Linked DNA regions of Homo sapiens: region 1 is linked to region 2. Evidence: fine-mapped expression QTL. Tissue or cell type: whole blood. Region 2 holds a variant in brackets; the other region holds the start of a gene. All regions are shown on one strand. Distances are from middle to middle.

The links. PIP is the estimated chance that this variant, and not a neighbour inherited with it, causes the effect.
Region 1: ABCA7 starts here. The variant in region 2 is fine-mapped to the expression of ABCA7 in whole blood (INTERVAL, PIP above 0.99).

The regions. Positions count from the first base shown.
Region 1 is chr19:1,035,535-1,043,534 of GRCh38, reverse strand. It overlaps ABCA7 (ATP binding cassette subfamily A member 7), which reads right to left and starts at 3,428. Exons shown (of 47, transcript NM_019112.4): 1 at 3,339-3,428; 2 at 2,108-2,310; 3 at 1,932-2,025; 4 at 1,563-1,704; 5 at 1,359-1,471; 6 at 1,138-1,220; 7 at 709-789; 8 at 284-494; 9 at 62-201. The coding sequence starts at 2,173. CNN2 (calponin 2) reads right to left here. Exons shown (of 7, transcript NM_004368.4): 5 at 7,289-7,405; 6 at 6,973-7,119; 7 at 4,470-5,910. The coding sequence ends at 5,635. RefSeq lists enhancers at 1,584-2,381, 4,274-4,773, 4,774-5,275, 4,863-5,422 and a silencer at 2,293-2,432.
Region 2 is chr19:1,004,200-1,012,199 of GRCh38, reverse strand. GRIN3B (glutamate ionotropic receptor NMDA type subunit 3B) reads right to left here. Exons shown (of 9, transcript NM_138690.3): 3 at 6,647-7,679; 4 at 4,427-4,572; 5 at 4,229-4,344; 6 at 3,909-4,060; 7 at 3,418-3,582; 8 at 3,273-3,343; 9 at 2,468-3,027. The coding sequence ends at 2,598. It overlaps TMEM259 (transmembrane protein 259), which reads left to right. Exons shown (of 11, transcript NM_001033026.2): 5 at 12-134; 6 at 208-308; 7 at 402-459; 8 at 537-620; 9 at 701-833; 10 at 1,005-1,104; 11 at 1,305-2,547. The coding sequence ends at 1,850. Among named protein-coding and RNA genes, the nearest start is that of GRIN3B, 7.8 kb to the right of the region's middle. RefSeq lists a silencer at 2,481-2,671. The variant G/T (reference allele first, on the strand shown) is at 3,554.

The DNA.
Region 1 (8,000 bases), 31 kb before region 2:
TGAGGGTACTGGATGGGCTCTGGCCACCACCCTCCCACCCCAGCATCCAGGCTGCCCCCACCTGGGCCATGAGCTTCCGGGTAAAAGGTGTATCTGGTGCAAAGAGTAGCTTCCCGAGGATCAGAGGCTTCAGGCGTCTCCAGAGCAGGCGGGACAGCGGGTGGCTGTCCAGGGCTCCAATCAGCTCCGAGCAGGCGGGGCCTGGGATGGGGGTGCCATGAGGCCCTGCCCCCCTGCCCAGAGTTCCACTTCCCAAGAGGGGAAACCGAGGTCAGTCACTCACTCAGGCTGCTGTCTGGCAGGGCGGATTCTGGCTCCTGCCCCACCAGCTCCATCAGGTCACTAGCCTCGTACCAGTTGAGGGAGGGGCCCACTGTGCTGCTAGGTCCCCTGACACTGCAGAGGGCCTCTGACAGCAACTCCAGGGGGCCGCTGGTCCCTCGGGGTCTCTGCAGCAGTGCCCGAAGCTCCACCAGGCTGCGCAGCGCCAGGAGCTAGAGAGAGGTTACCAGACGGAGCTGGCAATGATCCCACCTCCAAGCCCTAACCAGGGCAGGGCACTGGGCCAGGGGCAGCCTCTCCCTCTCGCTGTCTAATCCTCCTGAAAACCCACCCAAGGGAAGTGCCCGGGCTGCCCCAGACCCTCCCGGCGCAGGCTGCCTGCCAACGTTGCCTCCATGGGGGTTGAGGATGAGTGGGGCCTCGTACCTCCTGGGCCAGGTCCTCAGCGGCCTCCAACAAGCTGTGCAAGGGCTCCTGGGCTTGGCCCAGTGCCAACCCCAGGGATTCCTGGGGAGAAAGACCACAAGGGGGACAATGATTTTGAACACTCACTAGGGGTCCAGCGCTCTGGCCAGTTCCCAGGCAGACCATACTATCATAGCCCCCACTTTACAAATAGGGAAACTGAGGCTCTGAGAGGCAAAGGGACTCATTGGAGATCTCACAGACGAGTCTTCCTCACTGGGTCAGACACACTCTGTCTGGGGGCCCAGACGGACAAGCAGCATCACCGCAGAGACCAGGGACAGCCTGGATGCCTGGAACGGGAGGTCCTTGGCCCGGGGTGGGGCAGTGCCAGGACATCCCCAGTGCAGTGTCCCAGGAAGTCAGCGCGGTCCCGCCCCGACACCCTACCGTGCGCAGCAGTGACGTCAGCAGCTCCGCGACATCCAGCATGGGTGGTTCCAGTGGAGACTGCTTGGTTGGTTGAGGCTGGGCTGGGGGAGGAGCGCACGGGAGCATGGGGCTGGGGGGACGTTGGTCTGAGGCACCCACCCCCACCCTGTGCCCATTTCACGGCCCGGCAAGTTGAGGCTCAGAGCTCAGCCCTGCCAGAGGCCCCCCGGCCTCCTCACCCGTGCTGCGTGCAGCCCTCAGCGTGGCGATCAGCTTCCCTAGGCCAGCCAGCGTCCTGTGGGCACTGGCCCCTCCCAGCACAGTGCGGGCATCGGCTAGCAGCCGGGAGACCCTGGGGACAGAGAGAGGGCAGGAGGCGGGGTTCCGGCCGGCACTGCAGCCCCGAGTTTGCAGGCCGGCCGCACCCACTGCCTCTGGCTCACAGGGAGTCGTTGAAGTTGCTCAGGCGCCCGGGCTCCTCGCCCGGTGTCAGCTGCGGAAAGCAGGTGTTGTTCACATTACAGATGAGACCCTGGAGCCAGGGCACGGTGCCCGCCGATGGCAGTGGCTTGTTTGGGAAGTGGCCTGCGGGGAGACGCCTGGTGCTGAGGCCCTGTGGACTCTGCCTGACTCCACCCCCATCGGGTCGCCCGGCACCGCTTGCATGCCTCCAGCGATGGAGAGCTCACTCCCATGCCATGTATTGGCGGCCTGGTGAAGGCTCCCTGACATGCACGGGGGATTCCTGTGCACGGGTGAGCCATCTGCCTTCCCCTACACACACAAAGTGCCTGGTCCCTGGGGGGGCTCACATTCATGGTGCTCCAGGGGCGGGTGGGAGTGGCGAACAGCCACCAGGATGAAGAAGAGGAAGAGAGGCCACAGCAATTCGACCAGGAGCTGGACCTGGGGGAGAATAGGTGGGAGACGGTGGGGGACAGTGGGGGCTGCCTGCCCACCCGGCCCTGGTCTCACACTGGGGCGTTACCGGCTGTCTCCGGCGATACATGAAATTCTTCCAGAGCAGCAGCATCAGCTGTGTCCAGAAGGCCATGGTGAGACTGGGCAGGGGACGGGACAGAGAGGTCAGGACAACGGTCGGGCTGAAGACGTGCGGTGCGGCTGCGGGCAACTCCCTGCCCCTTTCTGAACCTCATTCCTTTATCCCACAGCGCAGGGTTCCTGGAAGCTCTGATTAGAGCGAGGCAAACAGTAGTCACTCGATAAAGAGGCTCCGCTACCCCAGGGGTGGAGTAAACCAATGGGAGCGCAACCCGCAGCCGTCCTCGCATCTGATTGGCTGCCAGGACTGTCGCTCTGAGCAGGGCTGACAGCTGGGGACTTAAAGATCATCCTCTAATCCTCCAGGGACCGAGTTTGGGCTTAACGCTTTCGTCACCAGGCTCCACCCCAAGCCTCACCTGGAAGCCTCTTCCAGGTCCTGACCCCCAGCCTCCTGCCTGGCCCAGCCCAGGCAAGGATTCCTTTCCCCTCACTGTTCTCCGAAGATAACAGCAACGAATATTGGCAGTGCTGGACATTTCACACGCCCAGGGGAAGTGCTGGACTATCACCCCACTCTACAGAAGTGGAAACCGAGGCCCAAGAAAGCAAACCCAGGCACCCAGAGAGACAGGCAGTTGCCCAGCTGGAGGCACGACCCCAGCTCTGCCCACACCTTATGTAGCATTAATCGCTCAGAGGGACCGCGGGAGCCAGAGAAAGAGTCAGGCGAAGGGGCTGGGATAGAGACTCCTGGAGTCAGCGATTCCTGATCTATTTTCCTTGGGCCGGTCCACCTCTGACACAGATGGAGAATCTGACGCTGACAGAGGGGCAGGAAGTTGCTAAAGGTGACCAGGCCGGAACTGGGACCTCAGACCCAGACCCTTACGCCAGGGTTCTTTCCTTTACATCAAGCGGGACTTAGGATCTGGGGGAGTGGGCTCAGTTTCTCCATTTGTAAGACGGGGCAAGGGGGAGTGCAGGAGTTCTAACGGGCAGGGGGCTGCAGGTGTGTGATCGGCAAAGGCCCTCTTAAGGGTCCCAGATGTCCGATGCCCCCCTTGAGAATCAGTGATCAATTCAGCCGTCGTCAACATTCACCGGAAGGAGGTCAGAGGCTGGACCCCCTAATTCCCAGGGAACTTGCATCCCTCCCGGCCCCAACCCCGCATTCTCGAGTCTCGGGCCTTCTTCCCTCTCCGAGTCCTTCTCACCTTCCAGGGGCTCCGCAGCTCTTGCCGCCTTCCCTCCGCCCAGCAGCAGGCAGGGAGCGCGCCGCCCCTTAAGCCAAGTGCGCTGAGCTTGCCCGCGCAGGTAGCAGCGCCGGGGCACGCCCCTGCCTCTGCACGCTGCTATTGGGCGACCTGCCCGTCACTCACTGGCCTGCTCCGTCGGAGCTGCGCGGGCCAAGGGAGGAGACGGGATCACAGAAGGGCCTCGCCTAGCCGGGTTTCTTAAAGGGACCGCGCGGCTCTTGCTGCATCACCGTAGGGTGGCGGAGTGCCCGGCAGGTCCCAGGCAGGCCGCCCTCCGGGAACGAGGCTGCGCTGTCTTTGGGGAGCCAGGCTGCCTCCCCACGTTGTATAACCGGCTGCAATACCGCAGCTCCGAATTGCAGGAGTTCCCTCTGTCCCCGCTGTCCCCGGGGCTGGCCAGGCTCCCTCTAGTTTAGTCCAGACTCTGGGACTACACTCGTCCGTCTGTAAAGTAGGGGTTCCACTAGATCATTCGTTCATTCATTCATTCCACGAACGCTCCTCGGCTTCTGCAGAGGATGGCAGGAGGGGGAGGGGGCCAACATTCTAGAGTCTCCGATTATAGTGGCTACCCTGATTTTGAGGAAAACCCGTTTCCCACTCTGGAAGAAGAGTTGAAATAAACTCTTCAGGCTGGAGGTGAAGCTGAAATGGGAGCGTGTGGGTCCACAGCTTTGAAGGCGCTGGGGAGAGTGAGAGGCGTGGGGACGGCTCCCGCGGCAGGAGGTGGCATTGCCGTTGGGGCTTTGAGGATAAATAGGAGTTCGCCAACGGGGAGACATCCAGGCTGAGGCCACGAGACTTGCGCTGTAAGGTAGAGTGCAGCCAAAGCGCATGGGGGGCATTTGAGGGAACTGCCTCTTCTCCAAATGGCCAGGAAGCCCAGCCTCTCCCTCTACCCCAAGTCCCGGCCCTTCAAATCATTCATTCCACCCAGACTCACCTGTGGCTTCAGCTTTTGCTCCTCCTCCCAATGGTGAGGTGGACATTTTCCCCTTGATCCCCCCATCCCCCAAGACCTCCTCTCTCCCCACAAAAGCATCAAAGCAAAGCACGCCCTCATCGACGCCAACTCTCTTGGCCACCTTCTCTTCGTACAAACAGAGGTTTTATTGCGTTTGGTCCACAGTCGTATTTCACATTATCTCACGGAGCAGGTCCCCTGGGTGGGGGGTCCCTGTGCAGTACTTGGCGGGGCATGTGGCCGGGGAAGATGGAGCAGTATAAGCTGGTCGGGCCCAGAAGGGAGGAGGGCTGGGGGCTCCTTAAAACCTACTGAGGGGCTGGGCACGGTGGCTCACACCTGTAATCTCAGCGCTTGGGGAGGCGGAGGCGGGCGGATCACACCTGAGGCCAGGAGTTCGAGACCAGCCTGGCCAACATGGGGAAACCCCATCTCTACTAAAAATACAAAAATTAGCCGGGCGTGGTGGAGCACCTGCAGTCCTAGCTACTCAGGAGGCTGAGGCTGGAGAATCGCTTGAGCCCGGAAGGTGGAGGTGCAGTGAGCCAAGATGGCGCCACTGCACTCCAGCCTGGGCAACAACCACAACTGAAAAAAAAATCTACTGAGGCCAGAGTGGGTTGGGGCGGGGAGCATGGAGAGGGGGTCAGGCTTAGCCCCAACAACTCAGAATTTCACTTCCTTGTACGGCCCTCACTTTCTCCACCTGGCCCCGGGGCAGGTCTGAGGGTCTGAAGTCTGTTGGTCTGAAGGTCCTAGGCAAATCCAGTCACTTGGGAGCCGGAGATATTTAACATCACGGCCCGGTCCCCTTTCCCAGGGGACTCATTTCCTAGCACTCTCTCCACTGTCCTTGCCCCACCCCTGGGGGAAAAAATGTATTTTTCTTTTGTGAATACTTCCTGAAACTTGCGGGCATAGAAACCACAAACTGCTCAGCTGACAAAAGGGGGAAGAGGCGAGGCAAGCAGAAACCGTCGGGGACCGGTTCCTTCCAAGCCCAGGTCTCTTCTTCCCAGCACAGCCTGAATGTGCCAGCAGGGACCCTCGCCCTACACGTATTGGGATATGGCCTTGACCCCTTCCCCCACAGCCCAGTGGCTCAGCCTTGCGAAGGATCAAGGCAAAGGGGAAAAAAGCTCTGCTGCCTGATCCCACGCTGACACTCACAGACCCTTGGTTGACTGGCAGCACTGAACGGGTTAAGAAAAAAAAAAAAAAGATGAAAACACAGAAAAACCCAAAAACCCAGATGGGCAGACGATGTGGGGAGAGAGCGTGCTGGGAGCCTCAGTAGCCGGCCTCCTCCTGGTAGTAAGGGGGATATTCAGGGACCTCCCCCGGGTCCGGGCAGTCGCCGGTGCCCGAGGGAGCCCCATCGGCCACTGTGCCTTGCGGGCAGTACTTGGGGTCATATATCTGCCGGCCCAGGCCGAAGACCTGGCCGCTCTGGTTGGCGCCCTGCGTGTAGCCCATCTGCAGGGACATGGAGGAGTTGTCACACTTGTCGGTTCCCAGCTTGGTATCATAGATGTGCCGCCGGGTCCCGGGAGCCGTCATGCCCACCTGGAGAGGAAGGAGGGGTGGAGCAGGTCATGGTGGAGAGAAGAGGGGACCTTCACTGGGTGCACTGGCTCACGCCTGTAATCCCAGCACTTTGGGAGGCCAAGGTGGGAGGATCACCTGAGGTCAGGAGTTCCAGTCCAGCCTGGCCAACACGGTGAAACCCTGTCTCTCCCAAAAATACAAAATTAGCTGGGCGTGGTGGCACATGCCTGTAATCCCAGCTACTCGGGAGGCTGAGGTGGGAGGATCACCTGAGGTCAGAAGTTCAAGACCAGCCTGGCCAACACGGTGAAACCCCATATCTACTAAAAATACAAAAATTAGCCGGGCGTGGTGGCGGGCGCCTGTAGTCTCAGCTACTCGGGAGGCTGAGGTGGGAGGATCACCTGAGGTCAGGAGTTCAAGACTAGCCTGACCAACACAGTGAAACCCCGTCTCTACTAAAAATACAAAAATTAGCTGGGTGTGGCCGGGTGCGGTGGCTCACACCTGTAACCCTAGCAGTTTGGGAGGTCAAGGCGGGTGGATTGCCTGAGCTCAGGAGTTCGAGACCAGCCTGGGCAACATGGTGAAACCCCATGTCTACTAAAAATACAAAAATTGGCCGGGTGTGGCAGCATGCACCTGTAGTCCCAGCTACTCGGGAGGCTGAGGCAGGAAGGAGAATCTCTTGAACCCGGGAGGCAGAGGTTGCAGTGAGCCGAGATCGTGCCACTGCACTCCAGCCTGGACAACAGAGTGAGATCCTATCTCAAAATAAATACATAAATAAAATAAATAAAGATTAAAAAAAAAGAATTGGGTGGACCTTTGGGCAGTCCTTAAGGGAAAATGACACAGGGTGAGGTAGTAACTTCCCTAGAGACCCACAGCCAGGTGGAAATGACAGAGGCTGAAATCCAAGGCGGAGACAGAGAGCGGGGAGGGAAGCCGGAGGTGGTCTAGGGAAGGGGCTGAGACTGAGAGTGGGGAGAGAAGCTGGAGGTGGCCCCAGGGAGGGGCCGAGACCACAGGGTGTAGAGGGGCAGGGAGAGGAGTCGGGGGCACCCGGGCGAGCCCCACCTGGCTGGCACACTTGTTCGTGCCCATCTGGAGGCTGATGGTCGAGTGGTCCATGGGGGGCAGGATATGGTTCTTGGGGTCATAGAGATGCCTTCTCGTGCCGTAGGCAGTCATGCCCGACTGGCTGGCGCATTTGTTGGTGCCCATCTGCAGGGAGGTTCGTGGGAGAGGTCAGACTGCACCCAACAAGCTTCCGGTCCCTCCCTGAAATTGAGGGACCACAGGGCTCCATGCCGCTGTCCCCCAATGCTGCTGTCCCCCAACACCGTGGTCCCCCAATGCCGTGGTCCCTGGGGCTGGGGGAGCTGTCGCCCACCTGCAGCCCGATGACGCACTGGCCAGCCTTCATGGTGGCATCGTCGAAATTCCGCTCCTGCTTCTCCGAGTACTTGACGCCAATGTCCACCCCGCTCTGCAGCCCCTTAGTCTTGGCCTGGGTGAGGGAAAGGGGCCGGGAGTACCAGCAGAGGGCAGCCAGGGACCCTAGATCTAGGCCCTGGGGGCGGGACAGAGACCAGGCCGCGGCCTGTCACCTCTGCCTGCCGCGCAGAGCCCCCACAGGCACATCTCTCGGGTGTCTGGGACTCCACACACTCCACACACCCATCATACAGCTGTTTCAGTTTTTTATTTTTATTTTTGAGATGGAGTCTGGCTCTGTCACCCAGGCTGGAGTGCAGTGGTGTGATCTCCGCTCACTGCAACCCCCTCCTCCCAGGTTCAAGCAATTCTCCTGCCTCAGCCTCCCAAGTAGCTAGGATTACAGGCGTGTGCCACCACGCCAGGCTAATTTTTGTATTTTTAGTAGAGACGGGGTTTCACCATGTTGCCAGGCTGGTCTTGAACTCCTGGCCTCAAGTTATCCACCCGCCTCAACCTCCAAAAGTGCTGGGATTACAGGCGTGAGCCACCGCGCCCAGCCCATGGGGCTGCTTCATCCCAGCGTGCCTTGTCTTAGGCAACAGCTCAGCTTTCCAGGGCTCAGGCCAAGAATTCTGGGGATGGGGACGTGGTTTTCGCTTCCTCTC
Region 2 (8,000 bases):
CCCACCCGCAGACCCCACGCGGGACCAGTGCTTCGGGGACCGCTTCAGCCGCCTGCTGCTGGATGAGTTCCTGGGCTACGATGACATCCTCATGTCCAGCGTGAAGGGCCTGGCCGAGAACGAGGAGAACAAGGGTGAGGCATGCCCCGGGGCCGAGGGTGCGAGGGCGCGGGTGGGGGCGGGCGCTCACGGCTCCTTCTGCTGCAGGCTTCCTGCGGAATGTGGTGTCGGGCGAGCACTACCGCTTTGTGAGCATGTGGATGGCGCGGACGTCCTACCTGGCCGCCTTCGCCATCATGGTCATCTTCGTGAGTGCCTCGGGGCGGGTGCGGGGGCTGGCCGGGCGGGAGCCAAGCAGGCCCTCGCAGCCCCTCATAGCGCTTCCTGCGCGCCCCTTGCAGACGCTGAGCGTGTCCATGCTGCTGCGGTACTCACACCACCAGATCTTCGTCTTCATCGGTGAGTGTCCCGCCGGCGCAGGGCGGGGCGGGCGTCCTCCAGGCCCTCACCGGGCGCCCGCCGCCCTGTGCCCGCAGTGGACCTGCTGCAGATGCTGGAGATGAACATGGCCATCGCCTTCCCCGCAGCGCCCCTGCTGACCGTCATCCTGGCCCTCGTCGGTGAGGACCCCACCCGGCCTCCCCCGCCCCGCGCTGCACCCCGCCCCGCCCGCTTCAACCGGCGCCGCCTCTCCCTGCAGGGATGGAGGCCATCATGTCGGAGTTCTTCAACGACACCACCACCGCCTTCTACATCATCCTCATCGTGTGGCTCGCGGACCAGTATGACGCCATCTGCTGCCACACCAGCACCAGCAAGCGGCATTGGCTGCGGTGAGCGTGGCGCGGGGGCAGGGTGGAGTGGGTGCTGGTGGGCAGGGGTAGGGGGCTGCCAGAGGGAGGGGCGCTGGAGGCGGGGGTGGTGGCTGCGCCACGCGGGAACCCCAGGGGCTGGGCCTGGCAGGGTGGGACCTGCAGCCCCGACGCCCTCACCCCGCCCCGCAGGTTCTTCTATCTCTACCACTTCGCCTTCTATGCCTATCACTACCGCTTCAATGGGCAGTATAGCAGCCTGGCCCTGGTCACCTCCTGGCTCTTCATCCAGGTGAGGCCTGGGCGGCAAGCAGGGGGCAGGCCAGCCGTGCCTTTCCAGGCAGGAGAGGCTGCAGCCGGGGAGGATGCCCTGTGGGGTCGGCCCAAGCGGGCAGAGGTAGCGTGGATGGTCCCGGGTGGGCTGCCCTCTGGGAGCAGCGGCTGGGTGGGGCAGGGGCGGGCCCGTCCTGACTCCCACTCTCCCTCCCGCAGCATTCCATGATCTACTTCTTCCACCACTACGAGCTGCCTGCCATCCTGCAGCAGGTCCGCATCCAGGAGATGCTGCTTCAGGCGCCGCCACTGGGCCCCGGGACCCCCACGGCGCTGCCCGATGACATGAACAACAACTCGGGCGCCCCGGCTACAGCCCCTGACTCTGCCGGCCAGCCCCCCGCCCTGGGCCCCGTCTCGCCTGGGGCCAGCGGGAGTCCCGGGCCTGTGGCAGCGGCGCCCAGCTCCCTGGTGGCCGCGGCAGCCTCAGTGGCAGCAGCTGCCGGTGGTGACCTGGGTTGGATGGCAGAGACCGCTGCCATCATCACAGACGCCTCCTTCCTGTCCGGCCTGAGCGCCTCCCTCCTGGAGCGGCGTCCAGCCAGCCCGCTGGGCCCTGCTGGGGGCCTCCCCCACGCCCCCCAGGACAGTGTCCCCCCGAGTGACTCCGCAGCTTCTGACACAACTCCCCTGGGGGCTGCGGTAGGCGGGCCTAGCCCGGCCTCCATGGCCCCAACGGAGGCGCCCTCGGAGGTGGGGTCCTGAGCCGCACAGCTGAGCCGCCTCTGACCCCTGCTGGCTGGGCCTGACCTTCCCGAGCCCGTGGGGGTGGGGGAGGCCAGCCACCTCCTTCCTCTGGGACTGCCCAGCCTGTGTCGGGGGCTTTCAGGGTTTCGTGGGGTTTGCCCGGAAGGCGGCTTTCCTCCCCCTGGTGTGAGGTCGCGCCCGAGGCTTGTACCCGCTAGTGAGGTGTTTGAGCTGGTCAGCAAGGAGAGGGGGTGGGGTTCCGCGGAAGGTTCTGGAGGGGTCTTGGTAGGTCTGCAGTGAACCGTCCTGAGGATGGAGTGGGGTCCCATGGTGCAGGTCTCTGAGCAAGGCGGAGGTGTGGAGGAGAGGCCGGCTTGGGGTGGGGCCTCGCGCCCTAGTGCCGGCCGGCCTCAGCCCGGCTCTGCCTGGTGCTCCCTGCAGTGCCTTCTCCATGGCCCCGCCCTCCCCGCGTGTGCGCCAGGCTTGGGGTCCCCGGGAGAGCAGAGCTTGCGCCTCGGGCATAGGGACGTGGGGTGCAGGCGCCAACATCAGTGGCAGCAGCCAGGGCCGTGGTCCAGTCCCACTCGGGGATGGAGTGGGCCGGCGGCCAAACCAGTCACTCGGGGAGGAATGCGGAGGAGCGCTCATTCCATTCTATTTAATTGCAGTGTACAAAATTGTGTTTGTATATAGAATAAACTGTCTGTTGACAGCGGCTCACTGCGCTGTGTGTGTGTCTTGAGCCCAAACGGCCCGGCTGCCGCCTCATTCCTGGCTCCCCGGTCGGCCAGAGTGTGGTGGGGCCTCCGCGGGGGCCGCTCTGGCCTGAAGCAAGCGCCGAGGCCGGTGACGTGCGCTGTCCCCGAGCTGTGCCAGGAGCTGGCCGCGCCGCACCAGGGCCTGGCGGAGCCGCTCACGCGCGACTTCGATGCGGCGCTCCAGCTCCTGCAGCTCCCCGGGCTGGGGGGCCCCCGTGGGCCTTGCGGCGGGCGGGCGGCCGTAGGAGCACAGCCAGACGGGGCCCTCTCGCGGCGCAGCCTCCGCCTCCGCGTCCGCTTCGGGTGCCACAACCACGGCGGGCTCCAGCAGGAAGCGCACGCGGCGCTCCTTGTCCACGGCCCGGCGCGCCCGTTTCCAGCCCTCCGGAGCCGTTGGCTGGTCCTGCTGCTGCTGCTGCTGCTCCACCTCGGGGCCGCTGGGGACGGAACCGGCCTGGTCAGTGTCCGCCGGGGCAGCCGTCTCGCGCCCTGGGCCTCTGCAGAGGCCGCTGACGGCAGAGGATGGCCGACAGGCACAACCAGGGAGCCACGGTGTGCACGTCCGGGGGTGGGCGGGGGACCTCCGGGAACCTCCTGCACCCCGCGGCCGGCTTCGGGGCGAGCTGGTGGGGTGGTGGGTCTGGGTGGTCCTGCATCGTGGTCCGCCCCGACCACCACTTACCTGGGCTCCGCCTCTGCCGTCTCCTCCTTCGACCCCTCTGGTGGCTCCGTGTTGAGGGCGCGGTGGATTTTCTAAGACCCCAGACAGACCCGGTTGGCGAGGAGGCGGGGGGGGTGGGGCCGCCCGCCGCCCACCCGCTCCCCACCTGGCTGGTGTGCAGCCAGTACTGCAGCCTGCTCCCCTTGCGGATGCGCGGCAGCGCCAGGCGGAAGAAGGCGTGCTCGCCCAGCGAGCTGAGCAGAGCGCTGCCCAGGCCCAGGCACAGCAACACGAAGAGGCCC[G/T]CGAAGTGGTAGATGCTCATCTGCAGGGTCTGGGGGCAACACAGCAGGAGCCCCGCACGGTCACGTAATGGCAGGCCCCTGGGGAGCCTTGAACTAGGGGAGAACAGGTTGGGCCAGAGAGAGGGGCTTGGGGCAGTGGAGCCAGGTTGGGAGGCAGGGACTCCATGGCTGGGGGGAGTGAGGTTTCATGGAGGAAGGGGCACTGCAGCCGGGGTTTTGTAGGGTGAATAGAAGTGCGCAGAAGCAGACAAACGCACGTCTGGGGAATGAGCACTGGGGTTGGTCACTTCAGACAAGGCTCAGGGCCCCCCACGCCCACCCCCACCCCCACCCTCTGTCCCAGGCCCTGCCCCACCTCTGTAACCGCAAAGACCCGCTTGCCGCAAGGCACCATCTTGTACCACTTGTCGTGGAGCAGGTCGATGAAGCCGGAGGACTTGTAGCGGCTGATGAACTCGGACAGGTTGGAGGTGAGCGGCGAGTTCTGGGGCAGTCCGATCCCATAGCCTGGGGGCGCGGGGCCAGGCGGTGGGGCCAGGTGGGACAGCCCCAGGGGAACTCTGCCCGCACACGTGGGATTTCGCCCCTTCCCACCTCGAACCCTCCGTGGCTCCCCACTGCCCCCAGGAGGTCCCCAGAGACCCCGGCGCCCCGCCTCGCCCAGGTGCCTCTCACCCTCAATGGCGAAGGGCTTTCCCACGGTCAGCAGTTTGCAGTCGGCGTCGATGGAGACCTCGTAGTCCAGGAGCGACTTGTCCATGATGAAGGCGTTGAGCTTGGGGGGGTCGCTCCTGCTGGGGCCGGGGGCGGGGGTCAGCCATCGCCCCGCCCACCCCACGCCCCGCCCCCGCCTCACCCCGCGCCCGGGCTCACGTGAGCATGGCGACGCCGCGGGGCGTGGTGGGCGCGCTGTGGCGCCGCATGTGTGCGTGCATGTCGGGGAAGCTCTTCTTGATGTACGCCTCGGCGCTGCTCTCCCACACGGTGCCGAAGCGGAAGCCCTGCGCCGGGTGGTGCAGCTGCGCGGGGGACCCCGTCAGCGCCTCTGCCTGCCCCTCAGGACCCCTGACCATTGAGGGGCGCGCCGTTCTCCGGGGTGGGGCCGTCCTGGGCACTGCAGGGCGCCGAGGCTGCATTCCTGGCCTCCACCCACTCCATGCCCAGAGCACACCCCAGGCGTGACCACCACAGCTGTCTCTAGACACACACTGTCCAGGGTCCCCTGGGGCGGGGGGCAGGATCACCCCGGGTGGAGACCCTCTGTTCTAAACGCCGGCAAGTCCATCTCCACCTGGACCTCGCCCTGGGCTGGACGCCTATCCCACCACCTCCTCTGCCTCTCCCCTGGGGGTCCCACGGGAGCCCCACTCTAACATGTCCATGACCCCACTCCTGATCTGCCCCCACTCGCTCTTCCCACCCCAGGCGGAGGCAGCTCTGTCGTCACTGCCTCTGACACCCTGTTTCTCCCGAAAACCCTGGGGGGCGCCACCTGCAACACAGGGAACTGCCCACTGCTCACCCCTCCACAGCTCCTACCCAGGTTGGGGCCCAGCGTCGAACCCAGCCTCCTTCCCCATCAACATCCTCGACCAGCCCAGGCCCCTCTGCGGGGTCCTCCCTGCACCACCCGTGGTCTGTTCTCCCCACAGCTGCCAGGGCAACCTGGTGCAGACCCCTAATGAGTAGGTGGGTCTGGCTGCTGAGGTCACACCAGCCACGGCCTCCCCACGGGATTCCAGCACCACCAAAAACCCAAACTTGAATCCCATCGTGCCTGTGGGTCAGCAGCATCTGATGGAAGTTTCCGTATGATGAAAAGGCTTTGACGGCTCAGCTGTGCAGCGTTTACATTGGAAGAGCCGCCGGCAGCAGTCGGCTCACCTGACAGCATGGCGTCTACGCTTTACTACCGTTTCACAGGGGACACCAGGGGCTGGGGAGCAGGCCAGGCACCCCCAGGGGACACCACTGGGCAGATCCAAAAGTTCAGAGACACTACGGGGCAGAAAACCCGACTTTGCCAAGAAATTACAAGGGGAGGCCGGGCACGATGGCTCACGTCTAATCCCAGCACTGTGGGAGGCTGAGGCAGGAGAATTGCTTGAACCTGGGAGGTGGAGGTTGCGGTGAGCTGAGATCACTGCACTCCAGCTCTGGGCAAGAGTGAGACTCTGTCTCAAAAAAAAATAATAATAATACGGGCCAGATGTGGTGGCTCACACCTGTGATCCCAGCACTTGGGAGGCCGAGGTGGGCGGATCACGAGGTCAGGGGTTCGAGACCAGCCTGGCCAACATGGTGAAACCCGCCAACTCTACTGAAAATACAAAAGCCAGGCTTGGTGGTGCACACCTGTAATCCCAGCTACTTGGGAGGCTGAGGCAGGAGAATCGCTTGAGCCCAGGAGGCAGAGGTTGCAGTGAGCCAAGATCGTGCCACTGCGCTCCAGCCTGGGCGATGGAGCAAGACTGTCTCAAAAAAGAAAAGAAAAATAGGCTGGATGCGGTGGCTCACGCCTGTAATCCCAGCACTTTGGGAGGCCAAGGTGGGAGAACTGCTTGAGCCCCGGCGTTTGAGACCAGCCTGAACAACATAGCCAGCCCCCCATCTCTGTGTTTTTTGTTTTGTTTTTTGTTTTTTGAGACGGAGTCTTGCTCTGTTGCCCAGGCTAGAGTGCAATGGTGCCATCTTGATTCACTGCAACCTCCGCCTCCTGGGTTCAAGTGATTCTCCTGCCTCAGCCTCCCGAGTAGCTGGGATTACAGGTGCCCACCACCATGCTCAGCTAATTCTTTGTATTTTTTAGTAAAGATGGGGTTTCACCATGTTGGCCAGGCTCCAGTTCGAGACTCCTGACTTCAGGTGATCTGCCTGCCTTGGTCTCCCAAAGTGCTGGGATTACAGGCGTGAGCCACCGCGCCCGGCTATTTTTCTTTAAATAAATAAATTAATTGAATAAATGTCTCTTGGGACCAGAGTTGGCCTAGTGGACGTCCTCCACGTCCAGCTGACCACCCCTGCCCCACACAGCCCAGCCCGGGGCCACCGCTAGCCCCCCAAGGCCACCCGCAGCCCCCCGAGGCCGCCCACCTTGGGGTCGTGGATCCCCGACAGCTCCTCGAAGGTCTTGTCCCCGACCATGACGGCAGCCAGGTTGGCCGTGTAGCTGGACAGCACCAGCAGGCAGAAGATGGCCCAGAGGTTCATGAGCAGGCGGCCCGTGGGGCACTTGGGCGTCTTGCTGGACACGGTGCGTCTGAAGAGGATGGCGTAGCACAGGTTGAGGGCTGAGGAGTAGGAGAAGACGGTGCTGCGGTTGCGGCCACGTGGCGTGAGGCCGTAGGGGCTACGCCACTCGTACACGGTGAGGAAGAGCGCGGTGAGGTGCAGGGCCGCAAAGACGCCCAGCCACGTGGACCAGTGCAGGGGCCACATAAAGGCACCGATGGGTGAGGCCGTGTCCCGTGCCCGCACCATGATGCCCAGGCTGGTGGAGAAGAAGGGGCTGGTGAAGTCCACCACCTGTGAGCGGGCGGAGTTGATACTGAAGCTGGTGACCGCCATGTGGGCCCGGCCGGCCAGCAGGTCCCCGACCAGGCCGGTCCAGCGGCCGTCCCGCAGGGCGCCGTACTTGCCGTCACCCACGAGGTACAGCTCGAAGTCGAAGGGCGTGTCCTCCGCCAGCCGCTCCAGCAGGTCAATGCAGTAGCCGTAGCAGCACTTGCGCAGGGCACGGGGCGCTGAGCCGTTGGCCAGCGCGGCGAACAGTGCGTCCAGGGTGGCCGAGTCGTTGGTGCCAGGGTCCAGGCACAGCTGCCCCGCTGGGCACTGCCCGTCTTCGTCTGGATCACGGGCAAACACAAATGGGTGTTCCAACAGCGTTACCACACGCAGCTTGGGCCAGACCTGGGCACCCTGTGGGGGCGGGGGCCGTGCAGAGGCACCTCCCGGTTCCAAGTCCAGCTGGCCGTCCCGCCAGCTGCCCACCGTGGCCCAGGCCGGGGCGCCCCGTGGGTCCCGGCGAAGGCTCCACACCTTAAAGTGCCGAGACATGTGTACCTGGGAGCTGCCTGTCACCCACACGGGGCCCGTGCGGCCCTGGAAGGACGTGTTGGCCAGGAACCTAGGGGCAGGGCGGGGGGGGTGTCAGGTGTCGAAGTTCACACCCCTCCATCCTCTCACCCCTGCCCAGCACGTGCCCGATTCCCACTGGTCGCTCTTGTCCGTATCATGAGGACAAACGTGGACGCTCCTGGTGTCCCCAAGCCTAGTCCCCAAGCCTAACCCCTTGATCCCGGGGCATCCGTGCCCGATGCCGTGGCTGTGCCCCCACTCCACATACGCCTGAAGCCAGTGACTGACACACAAGCACCCAGCTGGGGTCACCTGTTTCCAGGAGTTGTTCATTCTCAGGAACTCCTCCAGGGCTCAGCCAGAGACCCGT